Linked DNA regions of Homo sapiens: region 1 is linked to region 2. Evidence: fine-mapped expression QTL. A gene starts in region 2. The other region holds a variant in brackets. All regions are shown on one strand. Distances are from middle to middle.

Region 1 (4,376 bases), 33 kb after region 2:
CCGCACCCACCAAAGGGTCCCCAAAGCAGCGGCACAAGGACGGGCAGGAGGCAGAGCCTGCCCCCCAGCTGTAAGGGGGACAGGGCCCCCAGGGCACAGAGCAGAGGGGTGGGGGGTTGAGGGACGGGCACCAGGAGGCAGGAGCGAGGCGGGGGGTGGGGGGCAGGGGGCAGGGGGGCTTGAAAGAGAAGGGGAGGAAGGGCTGAAAAAATGAAAAGTGGCAGGGAGATCGGAGGGGGATGGAAGGTGGGGAAAGAAAACCCAGGTGAGAGAGGAGTGGGGAGGAAAGAGAGGAGGGGGAAGGTGAGAGAGGAGGGGGGAGGTGAGAGAGGAAGAGGGAGGTGAGAGAAGAGAGGGGAGGTGAGAGAGGAGCGGGGAGGTGAGAGGAGGGGGTAGGTGAGAGAGGAGGGGGGAGGTGAGAGAGGATGGGGGAGGTGAGAGAGGAGAGGGGAGGTGAGAGAGGAGGGGGAAATAAAGGAGATGGAAGGAGTGGTGGAGAGGAAGGGAGGAGGAGAAGGATTAGTGAAAAAAGGAAGGAGAGGAAGGAGCAGAGGAAAAAGGAAGGATAAAAGGAAAGGGGGGCAATGAGGAAGCAGGAGGGAGATGAGAAAAGGAAAGAAGAAGGGAGAGGAATGGCCAGACCCAGAGAGCAGCAGAGGAGCATGGGGAGCAAGAGCCTGGGACAGGCAGGCACAGATGGCAGCGGTGACCCTGCACCCACCCACCAGCGCCCAGTAAGCCACACCTCCCGCCCCTGCACCCCAGCCTGGGCACCTCTCGGTTTCGGCCCCCTCGTCGGTACTCTCTGGGGGCGCCAAGGACTCCAGGCTCATTGGGCCCTGCGGGGATGAGTCCCCCAGCTCCAGGGGGGCGTCAGCACCTGTGGGGTGGAGGGAGCAGGGCTGGCTGGAAGGCCTCTGCGGCCACGAGACCCACACTCTGGGGGCCTGGAATTGCGGGGGCTAAAGCTACCCAGTGCCTGGCAGACACCACATGGCTGCTCTGTACTTCAGCACGGGACGGACAGATGTTAAGACCTCTCAGAACATGGCCACTAGGGGCAGGAGCATGAAGATGCAACAGAAGTGGGTGCCCCTGTGTGTCCTGGGTGGATGGGGACCCCAGGCCTAGCAAATAGGTCACAAACATCTCTCCCACCCAACCAGACTGCAGCCCCCTGAGGTCGGGAGGGCCCTGGATTCTGTGCTGCCTCCACGTCCATTCATCCTCCCCACCCTCTCATACTCCTTTAGAGAAAAGCAAACGGAGGCTAAGAAAGGGGAGTCATATCCAAGATACTAAATAAACACAAGCAGTCAGCAGAGCTGGTGTGTGAGCCCTGGCCTGGCCATGCAGAGATCCAAGGGCCTGAGGCCACAGCAGTGTAAGGATGGTGAGGGATGAAGCTCATGGGGCTGGCGGGCTCCCCACCTAGGGGGCCAGCAATGCAGCTCAGAGGGTGGACTGGTCATGTACTCAGGGAAGGTTCTGGAAAAGGAAGGGTTGATGGAAAACGTAGTCCAAGGGGGTGGGAGACGCAGCACCAGCAGAGAGGTCAGAGCCTGGGAGCAAAGCTGTGGAAAGGGCAAACTGAGGGAAGGGGAAAGTTATGAATGACAGTGGTGACCAGGAGCAGGGAGAAGTGGATGCTGAGAGCAAAGGGGAGGTGTTGCTGGGGAATGGCTTCTATCTGGGGGTGCCAAGGGGGCAGGCAGCACCCCCACCCTGGATCGCCGGGCCTCATGGAGCCCTGGCCCAGGAAACTCTCACCTGGTTCCCGGTCTGGGCTGTCCAGGGACAGAGGGTGCAGAGAGACTCCAGGGGTGTCCTGCCCAGGAGCCCCGATATTCCGGTCCCGAGAGGGCATCCCCACGCCTCCCTTCCGGTCTGTAGCACCTGGCTTCTCGGCTGGGGAGACAGTGAGGGAGAAAGAGGGAGATAAGAGAACAGTAACTCAAATCCACAACCGCCAGGGGATGCAAGAGGCTGTGCTCAGGCCCTTCCCCACCATGACAAGGAGCCCCTTCCTCCCTCAGACCCAGGAGCCCTCAACCCCTCCTCCCTCAGACACAGGAGTCCAGGCCCCCAGCCCCTCCTCCCTCAGACCCAGAGGTCCAGGCCCCAGGCCTTCCTCCCTCAGACCCAGGAACTCCCCCAGCCCCTCCTCCCTCAGACCCAGGGGTCTAGGCCCAGCCCTTCCTCCTCAGACCTAAGAGTCCGAGTCTGAGCCGCTCCTCCCTCAGACCCAGGGGTCCAGGCCCAATCCCTCCTACCTCGGACCCAGGGGTCCAGGCCCCAGGCCTCCCTCCCTCAGACCCAGGAGCTCCCCCAGCCCCTCCTCCCTCAGAGCCAGGGGTCCAGGCCCAGTCCCTCCTCCCTCAGACCCAGGGGTCCAGGCCCAGCCCTTCCTCCCTCAGACCCAGGAGCTCCCCCAGCCCCTCCTCCCTCAGACCCAGGTGTCCAGGCCCCCATCCCCTCCTCCCTCAGAACCAGGCGTCCAGGTCCCAGC[C/T]CCTCCTCCCTCAGACCCAGGCGTCCAGGTCCTAGCCTCTCCCACACAGGCCCCCAGTATGGATGCTATGGCTACAGGTACATTACCATCAACCTCTGCTTTGAGGTGTCGAAAATCTGGAACTGAAACGAGAGAGAATGAGACAGTGAGTGGGAGCAGCTGGGGAAGACAGGGGAGGGCAGAGGCCAGAGCCGCCTTACCCTGGGGCTCTCCCCGGTTCCAGCGGGCGGCATCCAGGATGCTGCTCAGCCCCTTCTTGGTCTTGGCAGGCTCGTCCGACCGCCGGTTCCCCATCACCTGTGAGAGGGCGGGGAGGAAGACCAGGCTAAGCATCTCTGAGACAACAACAAAGCAGAATTTGACGCTAGGTATCCAGAGTCATGAGGCTCCCAGGGCGTCTCTGGAGAGGAAAGGGTCAGGACGGGGCACTGAGGGAAGCACCTTTTTCCGGAAGAAGTTCCTCCCCGACTTCTTGTCTCCACTCTTGGTCCGCACCCCAAGGTGGCGCATGTACAGGCCAATGGCGTTGACCACGGCAGCACTGTAGGGAAGGGACAGTGAGGGCTCAACACACACAAAGACACACACACACACACACACACACACACACACTCACACACACACTCTCTCTCTCTCCCCCTAGAGGCAGAGGCCCGGCCTTCCCATCCTGACCCCACAACTACTTCCTGTGAGACTCTGAGGAGAGATGAGAGGGTTCAAAAGGACAGGGGCAAGGGCTGTTACCCAATGCCCAGGACCCAAGTGTCCAGGCCCCAGGCTCCTCCTCCCTCAGACCCAGGAGTCCAGGCCCCCAGCCCCCTCCTCCCTCAGACCCAGGAGTCCAGGCCCCCAGCCCCCTCCTCCCTCAGACCCAGGAGTCCAGGCCCCCAGCCCCTTCCTCCCTCAGACCCAGGAGTCCAGGCCCCCAGCCCCCTCCTCCCTCAGACCCAGGAGTCCAGACCCCCCAGCCCCCTCCTCCCTCAGACCCAGGCGTCCAGGCCCCCCAGCCCCCTCCTCCCTCAGACCCAGACGTCCAGGCCCCCCAGCCCCTTCCTCCCTCAGACCCAGGAGTCCAGGCCCCCAGCCTCCTCCTCCCTCAGACCCAGGAGTCCAGGCCCCCAGCCCCCTCCTCCCTCAGACCCAGGCGTCCAGGCCCCCAGCCCCCTCCTCCCTCAGACCCAGGCGTCCAGGACCCCAGCCCCCTCCTCCCTCAGACCCAGGCGTCCAGGCCCCCCAGCCCCCTCCTCCCTCAGACCCAGGCGTCCAGGCCCCCCAGCCCCCTCCTCCCTCAGACCCAGGCGTCTAGGCCCCCCAGCCCCCTCCTCCCTCAGACCCAGGCGTCCAGGCCCCCCAGCCTCCTCCTCCCTCAGACCCAGGAGTCCAGGCCCTCAGCCCCCTCCTCCCTCAAACCCAGGAGGCCGCACGCCTCCCCTGCCCCCCTCACCTCTTTTCTTCGTCGGTAGAGATGGTATGTCTGTAGGAGGAAGAGAGATGTTTGTGACATATTTGCTAGGCCTGGGGTCCCCATCCACCCAGGATACATCTCAGGGTTGCTGTCCTGGGATAGGCAGGGGGAAGAGAGACAGAGAGGGGACACTGTGGAAGGGATTGGGAAGGACTGTCATAAGAGGGAGGGAGGTCTCTCATCCAGGAGGATGGGATCCAAGTGCCAGATCATGGACAAGACCCAGAAATGACAAGGGAACCCCAAAGCTGGAAAGGGAAGACTCGGATTCAAGGTGAGTTAAAACACCAGGGTAGAGGAAGACCCCCAGTGCCAAGAAATGAACTCTGACCCTGAAGAGGGAACCTGCAAACGGGATGGAACATGCCAGAGGTAGCACGGGTGCCCTTGTGCTGGGGAGGG
Region 2 (4,376 bases):
TCTTCACAGGGGTTTAATGGTCATGAAATGCATTCCAGTTGGTGTACTTGAAGCCTTAATGGTGTCCCAGCTCTCTTGAAGGGTGTAGCCAAGGAGTCATATCTACCCAGAGGGTGTCACCTTTCTCCCAAAGGGTGTCCTGTGTGGGAGGAGTCCTGCCTTCCAGAGGGTGTTCCGGAACCTCCTCCTTGGCTTTCAGAGCCAAGAGGGGGCTCTGTAGTGTGCTGGGTGTAGAGGGGGAATGCTCTCTGTAGTGTGCTGGGTGTTACAGATAAACTCAGAGATAGACACAGATACACATACACAGACCTGCCATCTACACACGCAGCACACACGTGCATACCGTAATACAGGAAGTGGGAACACACGACCCGTACATGGAGACATTCAGGCACACGCACAGAAACATATGCACAAACACTGTAGCTGGTGACCTGTGTTCAAGTAGGCTGTGGACAGTCCCGGGGCTGTTATGGACACCCAGAGAACCATGGCTCTGGGGGAAAGGGTCGTAAATGGAGCCCAGTGAAGCCTGTTGGCTCCTTGAAAGAATGTTCCCTTTCAGACAAGTGAAGGTACAGACAAGTGAAGGAATTCTTGTTATCTGGCAAAATTCTTAATATTTTTAATGAGATTATTCGGAAGCAGCAAGCTCACAGCAAATGCGTGTTTACTTGGTACTTGGTGCAGTACCAGCTGTGCTCCATGCGCCCTGCGGTTTAACCTTCCCAACCACTCTAGGAGGGAGGTCATTATTGTCCCATTTTGCAGATGAGGAAACTTGAGGCTCGGGGATGTTTAGCGACTTGCCTGAGTGAGTGGTGAGCGGGAGTGAGGCTGAACCTTCTCTGTCAGGCAGGGCTGAAGTTCTCTTCTAGCCTCTCAGCACCTCGGTCTCAGCACCTGGGCGCTGGTGGGGTTGGTGAGATCCGACAGAGCTGTCCTGGCCCCTGAATATCCACCTGGGGACTGCTGTCTTGCCGTGAGACCTATTTTCCCCTCTAGGGGTAGAAGCCTCCAGGGGCTGCCCAGGTGAGAGCTGCCTTTCCCCAGAGAAGGTGGTGTGGGACTTGGCGGGGCGGAGCCTGACCTGGGAATGGGAGAGAAAAGTCGGGGGTGGTGGGTTGGGGAGTGGAAGCGGGAGAGAGGGCAGGGTGAGGGGCAAGGGGCGAGGGGCAAGGGGCAAGGGAGGGAATAGGAGGGTAGACAGTGAGGGTGAGGGTCAGGTTGGGCCAGGAGGTCCGGCCGGCCGGGAGCTGAACTGTGGGTCTGACCCGCCCTGAGGCTGGTCGATATTGACTTGTTATTTCAATGGGAGCAGATCTGGCTGGGCAGGGCCCTTTCCTGTCACTGTAGGTGTGCGTGTGTGTGCCTGTGACCTTGTGGGAGTGTGAAGGGGAGTGTCAGTGTGCCAGCCCTGGGTTCTGCCTATGTGTTAGTGAGGGCTTGTGTGTCCAGGCTGTGTGTTGGGAGTGGAGTGTGGCTGTGTGTGCATCTGGTTGTCTTTGTGTCCAGTTTGTGGGTCAGTGGATCAGGGAGTGGCTGTGGGTTGGGGAAGGTGTGGTGTGCAGGCTGTGTTTGTGCATATGTTTCTCTGTGTGTGCCTGAATGTCTCCGTGTACCGGTTGTGTTTCCACTTCCTGTATTACGGTCCGCATGTGTGTGCTGCGTGTATAGATGGCAGGTCTGTGTGTGTGTGTCTGTGTCTGTCTCTCTGTAGGGTTGTGTGTCCCTGAGTGTGTGTTTGCACTGTCTTACTGTATCCATATGTCCCTCTGTCCGTGTATCTCCTATCCAGGCTGCGTGTGTGCGGGTCCGTGTTCCAGTCCCGGTCCAGGCTTGCGTGTCCAGCAGGGGTCCTGGACGCATCGTCGCCACCTCCACCTCGCGCCTGTCCGTTTGTCCGCGCGTCCACTTAGGGAGGAGCGGGGCGGAGGAGAAGGGAAGGGGAGAGGAGGGGGGTCTCTCCACCTCTCCACCCACCCCCGCCCCACCCCCACTCCCTCAGTCCCGGGATCGAACCTTATTTAGAGTCGCGATTCGACATCTGTTTTCAAATTTGATCAGCTCTGAACTTTATTTTCCGAGTTTGAGGAAAATTATATTCCATCGATCGCGCCCCCGCCCCCTCCCCCGCGCCGCCGCCGCCGCCTCCATATATCTGCGAGCCGAGCCCGGCCGGGCGGCCGCGAGGGCGGGAGGCGCGCGGCGCGCAGAGGAGTGGAGGGAGGAGGAGGAGAACGAGGAGGAGGAGGAGCAGGAGGAAGAGGAGGAAGAGGAGAAGGCGCAGGAGGCAGGGCCGCCCCGCGCCCCCAGCCGGCCAGGCTGTCCCCGGCGCGCGCCCGCCCGCGCTCGCTGTGCTGAGCTCCAGCCCGGAGCTCCGTCCTCAGCTCTCCCCGTCTCTGCTCTCTTTGCGCGTCTATCTCGCTGTCTCTCTCCCTCTCTGCATCTCCCCGTCTCTGCTCGTCTCCCCGTCTCTGTCTCCTTGGCTGTCTCTCCGTCTCTGAGTCTCTCCTGTCCCGGCGTCTCAGAGACTCCCTCTCCTCGTCCTCTGGGTCTCTGCCTCCCCGGGGCTCCGGGCATCTCCCCCCACCCCGCCCCTCGCCCCGGTGCCCCCTCCCCAGGACGCCGCGGGGGCCATGGCTGCGGGATCCGAACTTTAAACACTTCTCCCCGGACCGGAGCGGATGCGAAAAGCCCAGAAAGTGAGTGAGCGCCGCGGCCGGCGCAGGGGCGGGGAGGGGGCGGGGATTCCCGCCCCAGGAGGGGGCGGGCGCGGGGGTGGTCCCGGGAGGCCTGAGAAGCTGGGCCTCCGAGCCGGTGGAGGGGTAGGCGGATGGGGTCATCCGCCCCGGCTGTAAGGGGCAGGTGGGGCAGCGCCCAACTCTGGGAAGGTGGGAGGCGGGTAGCGCTAGAGGTGCGGCCTCGGGACAGGGGTGCGAGATTTGGGGGCGGGGAGGGAGAGCGAGTGAGAGCCACGGAGATGGGGTCTGCAAGAGACTGGACTGAAAATCTGGGAACGGGGGTTGGTGGCCGACCTGAAGGTGGATTTGGATGTTTGGGGCTGAGGAGTCTGGATATTTGGGGCTAGATTCTGAGTGGGGTTTAGAGGTCAGGGCTGAGGGCTTGCATATTTGGGACCTAGGGGCTCAAAGCCAAGAGACTGGACACTTGGGGCGGAAGATCTAGATATCTGAGGTTGGGAGCTGACTGGGGCTGGGAGTCAGGACTGGGGGTGTGGATATCTGGGACTGGGGATCAGCATAGGAGTTTGGACTTGAGGGGGCCAGAAGTCTGGATTTGGAGTTGGAGTTCAAAGCTAAGGGTCTGCGAATTTGGATCTGGATATCTGGGGTCTGGATATTTGGTATGAGGGGTCACAGGGTCTGTGGGAAGGACATTTGGGCCAATTCTGGGGTCTGCACACTTCGGGGCAAGGAGTACAGGCCTGGCCCTGACCTTCGTGGGGCCGGGGCCCTCTGGGACACCCTTTCTATCATTCCACCACTGTCGCAGGGCCCTGCTGGGCCACTTCTGTTATCTCTCCCCTGGCTGGGTCTCTCCTCACTGTCTCTCTGTCTCTGTCTCTCACAGCATCTCTGTGTCCACCTCTAACTCTCCCAGGATCTGTCTCTCTATCTCTGTCTCTCACAGCATCTCTCTCTTCCTTTTTGGGTCCAACTCTTAAGACTATCTCTCTCTAAATCTCTGTGCTTATCTCTCCCTGTGTCTCTTCCTTTCTCGGCATCTATCTCTCTCTCTTCCTTTCTCGGCATCTCTTTCTATCTCTCTCTCTCTGCCTCTTTCTGTCTCTTACTGTCTCTCTGTCTCTGTCTCTCCCAGCATCTCTGTCTCTGTCTCCCCCTCGCTGGTTTCCGCTCAGATTAAGCCGGGGACCTAATTCCAGGCCCAGGATCGAATTTTCTGGCAACAAAGGGAAATAGCGAATCGATCGGTCGCTCTGGAGATTAAGAGACAAGCGGCGCGCGGATCTATCACGGCTAAACGGCCCCCCCGCCCGCTCCCCCCTCCCGGCCGGCCGCCGCGGCCCAGACGCGCTCCGCATCGCCAAGCAGCCTCAGGGGCCCTGGCTGCCCGGCAGGCCAGCAGGCCAGGCCTCGCCTAGCCCAGAGCTAACTCTGTGCCCCACCCAGGGCCAGAGCCACGGGAGGGACCCGAGAGCCAGAACTGGCTCCCCAGGGAGGGGAGGACAGGGGAGCGAGAGAAATCGAGGTGGCAGACCATCTGGCAGAGTCACACTGCACCCACCTGTGGCCTCAGGTAACTAACCTTTCACACCTGTCTATCAATGCACCTGTCACATCCATGTTCCCCCTTCAACTCCCCAAATCTGGACTTCCAGGTAACATCTATCT

What was found. PIP is the estimated chance that this variant, and not a neighbour inherited with it, causes the effect.
Region 1: its variant is the best candidate, but not a certain one, in a credible set for the expression of ERFL in whole blood (TOPMed, PIP 0.75).

The regions. Positions count from the first base shown.
Region 1 is chr19:41,892,881-41,897,256 of GRCh38, reverse strand. It overlaps ARHGEF1 (Rho guanine nucleotide exchange factor 1), which reads right to left. Exons shown (of 29, transcript NM_004706.4): 8 at 3,954-3,983; 9 at 2,951-3,050; 10 at 2,710-2,806; 11 at 2,596-2,631; 12 at 1,771-1,908; 13 at 775-880. Among named protein-coding and RNA genes, the nearest start is that of ARHGEF1, 12 kb to the right of the region's middle. RefSeq lists enhancers at 803-1,345, 2,305-2,805. The variant C/T (reference allele first, on the strand shown) is at 2,510.
Region 2 is chr19:41,926,369-41,930,744 of GRCh38, reverse strand. It overlaps ERFL (ETS repressor factor like), which reads left to right and starts at 2,296. Exons shown (of 6, transcript NM_001365103.2): 1 at 2,296-2,705. It also overlaps a transcript of ARHGEF1 not described here. RefSeq lists an enhancer at 1,399-1,899 and a silencer at 2,171-2,350.